2 separate regions of the Homo sapiens genome follow, and region 2 is linked to region 1. The links come from fine-mapping of genetic effects on gene expression. A gene starts in region 1. The other region holds a variant in brackets. All regions are shown on one strand. Distances are from middle to middle. Region 1 holds the start of WIF1 (Wnt inhibitory factor 1). Region 2 holds the start of LINC02231 (long intergenic non-protein coding RNA 2231).

Region 1 (4,394 bases):
TCATAGACTTCTTGTCTAATTCCTTTTTTCCTTTTTTTTTTTTCTATTGGTTGGTTGTATAGCTGCAAATATTTCCTCATTGGAAATCTATATTCTCAGAACCTAACACTGATTTAACTTGATGCCTGCACATGTCCACCATCTCTTCTGTTGTTTCTGTTTGTTTTTCCCTCTTGAGGCATCTGCTACTCTATAAAGGACTGATTGAAACACCACGCCCAGCCCCAGACATTTGATCCTTGAGGCATTTGTCACAGCTTCGGGTACTAAAGAACAAACACAAGTAAATGAACCTTTTATGAGTCCGAAGGCTAAGTTTTTTAATTAAAAACAAAACAAAACAAAACCCTTTTGCTTCCGTTTTCTTTGTGCATCCGAGGAATTAGGCAGGAGGCAAAAATCAGTTCTTTCTGCTGGGCCAGGTGGATAGGTTATGCTGCAGCCCACTGCCGGCCAAGCATGCTTCTCACAGACGAGGCCAGAGCCTTGGTTTTGCCCCCACGCACCTGTGAATTCGGCAACTTTTAAAAAATTATTTTATTTATTTATTTATATATTTTTTGAGACGGAGTCTCGCTCTATCGCCCAGGCTGGAGTGCAGTGCCACGATCTTGGCTTAATGCAACCTCCGCCTCCCGGTTCAAGTGATTCTCCTGCCTCAGCCTCCCGGGTAGCTAGGACTACAGGCCCCCGCCACCATGCCCAGCTAATTTTTGCATTTTTAGTAGAGACGGGGTTTCACCACGCTGGCCAAGCTGGTCTCGAACTCCTGACCTCAGGTGATCCGCCCGCCTTGGCCTCCCAAAGTGCAGGGATTACAGGCGTGAGCCATCGCGCCCGGCCGAATTCAGCAACTTTTAAAAAATATCAGCAAACGTGAAGATATCCACGATGTTAGAGGAGCCCTACCCCGGAGGGTCAGGTACAGCTATCGTCCAGGGCCCAGGGCACTCTTCCGGGCACTGCCGGGTTATCAGGGAGACAGACGGGAATCCCCAAATGCTGGGTGTCGGGCAAGTACCAGCTGGACGCCCTGCGCCTCGAGCCAAGGCCAGCGCCTGCCATCGGCACCATCGGACAGTCGAGCCTCGAGTTTTAACTGCTTGGGAGCGCGCAAAGTGCCAGCCTATCGCAGAACGGAGCGCATAGGGTTGGCGGAGAGAGGAATCCTACTGGCTGAAAGGGAGACGAAGGGCAATTTGCGCCTTCAGTGAGCGCCGGAGGAGGAACAGGAGTCATCACCTCATCATCATCATCATCATCATCATCACCATCACCATCACCATCATCAGCACTCAGTCAAGCCCAGCGTTGTCTGCTCTCCCCATTTCCCTCCCCCGAAGCCTCCCTTGGCCCGAGGAGGTGGCGAGTGATGTCCCAGGGGTCTCTGAGTGCCCTTCTCCGGGTCCGCCAGCCCTACACGCCCACTTCGCGGGCGCTCCACTGGGCGCACCGCACTGTGAATGCAGCCTCGGGGGTCCCTCGCGGCCCCGCCCCCGGGGGGGCCCCACAGCGCCCCCAAGTGGCGGCCGCCCAGGCCTCGCGGGCCCCACTCCTCGCTCGCACCTCGCTCGCGCCAGCCCTTCCCGCTCTTCTGTTCTCGCTCTATTTGCCCCGCTGACTGCTGGCCTCGCCAGCTTTGCCAGTCTTACGTCTCTGCCGCCCCCACTCCCGCCCGCGCCCCATCTTCTTGCGCGACTCGCGCCCGCTGGTCCCCCCCTCCTCCTCCCGCGTCCTGCCTGCCCCCTCCTCCTGCTCTCGCAGGCTCCTTGGCACCCAGGCCGGGAGGCGACGCGCCCAGCCGTCTAAACGGGAACAGCCCTGGCTGAGGGAGCTGCAGCGCAGCAGAGTATCTGACGGCGCCAGGTTGCGTAGGTGCGGCACGAGGAGTTTTCCCGGCAGCGAGGAGGTCCTGAGCAGCATGGCCCGGAGGAGCGCCTTCCCTGCCGCCGCGCTCTGGCTCTGGAGCATCCTCCTGTGCCTGCTGGCACTGCGGGCGGAGGCCGGGCCGCCGCAGGAGGAGAGCCTGTACCTATGGATCGATGCTCACCAGGCAAGAGTACTCATAGGTAAGGCCCCCGCCTCCAGCGCCTTCCCCTGCCTATGTCCTCCTCTCTCCACTCTTCAAGAAAGAGGGATACCTGCGTTTCTTGTGTTTTAAAACTTAATTTCCACAAAAGAGTGTTCCCCTCTTTTAATTAGATATTTTCCATCTGAAAGCTTATAAACTTCTCTTTTAAGAAACCAAAGCTGATCTAGTGTTCTGATCATGCTGTTGTTAATTTTTATAGCCCTGCGTTTTTAGGTGCACCCGGCATTTTTTTGCGTCGGTTAACTCCATGTCCATCCCTTTTCCCTGAAAGCATGGGTCTGTTGGCATCATTCTCATCATCCACAGAGAAAAATTAATCTTAGTAGCGTTGATGGTACTGAAGGCAGATGCTTGTGAACAGAAATGACCCACACTAATTCTTTGGTTTTCTTTTTGCTTGAAACTTCTGATTTAGATGATTTCAAGTCTACCTGGTTTGATCGTTTTATTATTTTAAAAACCAGGATTTGAAGAAGATATCCTGATTGTTTCAGAGGGGAAAATGGCACCTTTTACACATGATTTCAGAAAAGCACAACAGAGAATGCCAGCTATTCCTGTCAATATCCATTCCATGAATTTTACCTGGCAAGCTGCAGGGCAGGTAAGTTCTGAGAAAATTACCCTTTAATATTTCCACTGCCTTATGGCAGGTGGAAATAGTACTGTATAGTGTGTAGCCTGGTACATTTTACAGTTATTAAGAGAAATTTCTCATCTGATTGCCAAAGCAAATAAAGAATTAATTTCCATTTATTTCAAGTTGCCATATCAATTAATGATCTTCAAAAGAAAAGAACAAGCCTTGTGCCTAAGCCCATTATTTTGATAAGACTCAGTGTCCTGAGGCTGCTGGAAATATAAAGACCTCCAATACCAACATCACTGTGTTTCTGTGATCATTGACATTAAAATTTAACATACTTAAAGGACTCTTTTTGCATAGTAGTTTCTAATCACTTGTGACATTCTTCATACTTTACAACAAATTTTAAAGTTTGTAAGTATTTTTGACATTGTGCACTTTTAAAAAGTCAGTATGTTGAATGTTATTCACTGGAACGTGAATGTTGCATATTTCTGGTAGAAGTTAGACCCAAAAGGTGTCATGTAAGAACGTTATAAAATATTGCAGCCTATGTTTTCAAGTTACCATTTTAAATGCTTTCATATGGAAAAGAAAACTGGAATCTATTTTTTATGAAGAAGCATTCCTTTTATTCCTTAGCACATTAGCATCTTTTATATGTTACCTTTTGTACATTTTTATGGCTTCTAATTTTAGAAAGAAAGAATAAAATGCTTATGTAAATTTAATTTCTTTTGTACAATTGGAGAATTTACTCTAGAGGACAAATGGTAAGCAATGCATTCTTCAGCTTATTAGTTGGTAGAATGTGTCTACTATGAAAATCATTATAATTATAATTAAAACCACATTTTTCGGTCTTTTATTCTAAAGTTCCTTAAATGATTATTTTCAAGAAGAATGTGATACCGAAAACACTTTATAAAAAATAACTATTTTGAATTGAGAAACCACTTTGTTTCCCTCTAATTACCTGTTGTGGTATAGACATGACCTTTTTAGCTGTCTTTTTCCCTTCAAGTCTGTTCTCTTTTTCTTCTTCTTCTGAAATAGATCAAATCTAGAACCTTCAACACTTCCATTGCTATGTGGTTAAAAAAAATTGAGGTTTTGGATTCACTGAGGTTTATAACAGGAAAGTCATCTATTGTTAATACCCCCATTTTGCAGATAGGTTCATCGAGGTTTCCATTGCTCTATAGGGAGATTATTCCTTTTCTCCCTACAAGTCCCTCTTCATAGATACTTCATAAACAATTAAGTTGGGAATATTGTGAAATCAGTAATAAACCAACGAATGGCCTTTCATTTTCTCCTTTTCAGCTGAATCTGTTTACTTATGGCTGACCGCTCATCAGATGGTCATTAACTAAGTGGCCAATTAATTCTATATTTTTGAAAAGACATTTTTTAACCTATACCTTTATGGGTTCGTAAGAATCAATAAAAGGCAGTTTGAACTGCACCCTTCCATCTGAAAGGGTTTGGTAACTGGTTAACTGTAGGAAAAGCAGAAAGTGCCAATAGCTCTCTCGTGCGCACTCTCTCTCTCTCCCCCTCTCCCTCCCTCCTCTCTCTATCTCTTTCTCTCTCACTTATGTTTGTCTGTTGAAGAATAGAATTTGAAGCAAAGGCTTAAATTCCATGTTGCTTTTATCCTATTGCTTAACAGTATAATGCATGTTTGCAAATATTGGCATACTGGTGAGTACA
Region 2 (4,394 bases), 130 kb after region 1:
TCTTCTCAAGGCTTTCCCTCCCCACACACCCCTCCCCTGACAGGCCCCAGTGTATGTTGTTTCCCCCATGTGTCCATGTGTTCTCATTGTTCAGCTCCCACTTATAAATGACAACACATAGTATTTGGTTTTCTGTTCCTTTGTGAGTTTGCTGAGGATAGTGGCTTCCAGCTCCATCCATGTCCCTGCAAACAACATGATCTCATTCCTTTTATGCCTGCTTAGTATTCCATGGTGTATATGTACCCCATTTTCTTTATCCAGTCTATCATTGATGGGCATTTGGGTTGATTCCATGTCTTTGCTATTGTGAATAATGCTGCAATGAACATATGTGTGCATGTATCTCTATAATAGAATGATTTATATTCCTTTGGGTATATGCCCAGTAATGGGATTGCCTACAGCTAGTTTTAAAACCATCTACAATTCAGATCGTCTTCAAGGTTTTAGCAGCATGAGATTTTTCAGTGACAGAGATTATAGCATTGCAGTTGGACCACTGTAATCATAGAAGCATCAGCATTCCTACTGCTAACATGGTATTTCAAGAGCTATAAAACTTACAGCATGCTGCAATGTGGCATGCAAAGTTAGCCACAAAGTGTATACATTTCCTAAAAAGACTCAATCACTCCATTCTTAAAAAGCAAAAATGGAAATGTAAGTAAAACTTTGTTTAGAATTCATTTAATTTAAAAAGGGTAACCTCTATTACACAATCAGACTTGGTGAATGCAAACCTTCACATGAAGAAGCAAGGTTTTTCTATAGGTATTCCATCAGAGAACCACTTTAAAAAGTACGTTTGTTGGACTTCTAGAAAACCCAATTGCTTCTCAATTCAGCATTTCCCCTTGAGAGCATTAAAAAGAGCATTTTTATAGGCCCTTATTTTCTTTCTTGGGGGAAAAATATCATCACTATCCCTGATTCTTAAAGATAATAGAGGTACTGAGTTTAATTTCCAAAAAAAAGATGGGAAATGAAGGCAAAAATCCTGACACCCAATGTTCCATACTAATGCTATTGAGTTATTTCTTATTCCCATCAGAGAGTGGACTTTAGAATGAAAACTGAGCCTGCTGTTTTATTTTTCGTTTACATTCATGTGGTGGCAGCATCTTAACTGGTGCTGCTATAGCTGAATGAGAAGCAAATACATATCAAAGCTCACTTTCCTCATGGGTAGAAAGCTATTTGACTAACAGATTTCAGCGGTGCCTTGGTGACAAGAAAAGAAAAAACCCTCCAAGGATTCTGGAGGAAGTTGAAAGGCAGGAGGTCAGGCTTCCACCTGCAGGTAGAATGAGTGTTTGCCATTTCCTCAAATTCCTTGAGACCACCCACTGGCATGAAGGATGGTGAGCAAAGCCTGGGGAATGAAGACTATCTTTCAAAAGGTGCTTCCTGGGAGATTTAAGGGAGAAAAAGAAAATAATTTGTTGGTTTGTATGTCAGCTAGCAAGGCTTTTGATCATTCAGTTGGGACAGTTCTGCCTGGAAGGGATCAATCTCTTTTTATTCCAAAGACTAACACCAACAGATACAAATCAAAGGAGGTATTCTTTCAACAAAGGAAATTGCAGAAAGGATGCCTAGGCTTAATTAAAATATAACCTTTTGTTTTAAGGACTTTTCTTTCCCTTGCAAAAGGGAATGCACTCTCTGAAGAAGCATATGCCAGCACTGGTGAGATACAGTTCTTCAACAAGTAAGGATCTGTCTACATTCGGGGCACGTCTTGGGGAAGCCTTGAAGGGAATCGTGCCTGGAGTCCCATCTGACTTAACTCATCATCACAGTCCTTCATCACAACATAATGAGTGTTATTACTTCCTCATGTGGCCTGTGGGCTTTGTTAATTAAAGAATGGAAAGGTAAGTAGTTCCAACCTTTTGCTTTTAATTAATCAAAAGATGTGTTTTCCATCTTCGTGTTGCTGGGCAGCAAGTAAAGTATTTAGTCTGCCTTCCAATACCCAGAAGAGTTCCGTGAAAAAAACTCAGCTGCTGTTTTGGGACTGCATAGACTACATAGCAGATGACTGGCTTTATCTTTTCTTTCTAAAGTTTAATTAATTGTATTGGCCAGTCTGCTGCCTACAATGTAATAGTATTTAGAGAAAAAGAAAGTATTTTCTCATATCATCTCATCAGTACAAATAAAGCCTTCTTAAACCAAAAGTTTATATCTTAGAGTTTCTTGGGCATTTACCATAGTGCTAGGTAATTAGGAGACACTCAGCACAAGGAAAGAAGTGGAACTTACATTTATTGAGTGCCTGCTATGCCAAAACTGGTGCTCTTTTTGTTATATTGTCTTGCCTTTCCGCTCATTTGACTTATTAAAACTTCTATCATTAGGGTCATTCCTCCACATTAAAACACTCTCTGCATTTTAAATAGAAACATATACCTGGAGGGAAAACACATTAATCCATGAACAAGCATCATACCTTAGCGAAGACAGTACCTCAGGGAGTGAGCAGGGCACTAGTATATTTCCTTTTGGAGGGAAGTTAGAAAAAGCCCTAAAGCTGGGGTAGCAAATCGGTTTTCTCTAGTGTGCCAGCCCTGTACAATTAGTGTTGCTGCTCCCTGGAGCTCTGCTTTGAGAATCAGGCAGGAGGCAGAGTCTTAGCTCTGCAGGAAAGAGAATTGCAATTGCCTAATGATGTCAGA[C/G]CTGCTGCATGCTTCAGTTGCTAAAAGGAAAACTTCAGACAAATTAAATTTAACAGGGTCTAATTGAACAAAGAACAATTCACGAATTGGGCAGCCCTCAAAACTAGAACAAGTTCAGAAAAACTTTGGCCTGCAATGTGGTCAGATAGCATTTATGAACAGAAGATGGAAGTGAGGTACAGAGCTCCATTGATTACAGCTGGTGTTTGCCTTATTCAGCATTTGCTTTATGTGAACATGGTGTTTTGAGTTGGCTGCCTGTGACTGACTGAAGCTCAGCTGCTGTGATTGGCTGTGACTCATTTGTGACAAAAGTATATGCCTAAGCCAGGTTTTCAGTTAGTGTGAGTACTAAGTTACATTGCATTTCATTAGTAAGGACTCAGGTATGGAGGCATTCTCAGGTCAAATTTAGTTTAACAATCCCCCCAAATTTAGTTTAACAATGCCACCTCTCAAAACCTGGGGCATTGATACCACTCTCTGTCACCATCATAAACAAACTTATTTGGTCTCAGCATGAAATTCACAAGTCATGACATCACACCAGTTGAATAATTCTTTATGTTCTTGATGATCAAGTCAAAGTGAGACCACTCAACACTCAGTGGATGGCTGCATACAAATATTTAAGACTTGAGAGGATATGGTACACCAGGGGAGCTACTATGATGACTATCAGAAGGACAACACCAAAAATTCCAAAAGCCTGAGGTGTACTCTCTAACAGGAGCCTCTGCCAACCAAATCAATTTGACCCAAATCAAAGTTCAGGCAATATAGGTGTAGCAGGACAAGATGCAGACAAAACCCCTCAGACACCGAGTTAAAGAAGGAAGCAGTTTATTCGGCCGGGAGCATTGGCAAGACTCCTGTCTCAAGAGCTGAGCTCCCTGAGTGAGCAATTCCTGCCCCTTTTAAGGGCTCACAACTCTAAGGGGGTCCACTTGAGAGGGTTGTGATCGATTGAGCAAGCCAGGGGTACATGACTGGGGGTTGCATGCACTGGTAATTAGATCGGAACAAAACAGGACAGGGATTTTCACAGTGCTTTCCTATACGATATCTGTAATCTATAGATAACATAACTGATTAGGTCAGGCATCGATCTTTAACTACCAGGCCCAGGGTGTGGCACCGGGCTGTCTGCTTGTGGATTTCGTTTCTGCCTTTTAGTTTTTACTTCTTCTTTATTTGGAGGCAGAAATTGGGCATAAGACAATATGAGGGGTGGTCTCCTCCCTTACAGGCAGCTCAAAAGCATTTGAGTACCGTTGGTCATGGTTTTTGTTCAGGAGGTGATAATGATTAAGAACTGCAGTTTGCTGATTTAAAGAGGTATCCAATGTTGTCATTATCTTGTTAACACAAGTCATAGTAATCTGGAGAACCATTAGAAGAGCATAAAGGTTAGAACACCTTGGAAAAGCCAAGCCTACCTGCAAACCAATGGTTTGCTGCTCCTATGAACATGTCATATGTTTCTTTCCTCTGAGAAATTTCCTTTATGTATTTGGTGGCAGTGTCTAAGGAAACAGGATCCAAAACTGCATGATGTTTTATTAAGTGTTTTCAAAAGATGACTTCTACTCACCTGAACCTCTGTGGGGACTGGTTGGTCAAACCCAAGATTTTTCTCATTTTATGGATTACTTTCAAATTCCATACTACCAGTACCCTGCTAGTACCAAGACTGAGCCCCCAGGAATG

What was found. PIP is the estimated chance that this variant, and not a neighbour inherited with it, causes the effect. A credible set is the group of variants that fine-mapping cannot tell apart.
Region 2: its variant is the best candidate, but not a certain one, in a credible set for the expression of WIF1 in cerebral cortex (GTEx, PIP 0.66).

The regions. Positions count from the first base shown.
Region 1 is chr12:65,118,719-65,123,112 of GRCh38, reverse strand. It overlaps WIF1 (Wnt inhibitory factor 1), which reads left to right and starts at 1,808. Exons shown (of 10, transcript NM_007191.5): 1 at 1,808-2,069; 2 at 2,557-2,696. The coding sequence starts at 1,922. RefSeq lists a silencer at 1,488-1,647.
Region 2 is chr12:64,989,763-64,994,156 of GRCh38, reverse strand. It overlaps LINC02231 (long intergenic non-protein coding RNA 2231), which reads left to right and starts at 1,866. Exons shown (of 4, transcript NR_146276.1): 1 at 1,866-1,880. It overlaps LOC107984522 (a long non-coding RNA gene), which reads right to left. Exons shown (of 2, transcript XR_001749177.2): 2 at 3,511-4,394. RefSeq lists an enhancer at 1,003-1,529. The variant C/G (reference allele first, on the strand shown) is at 2,685.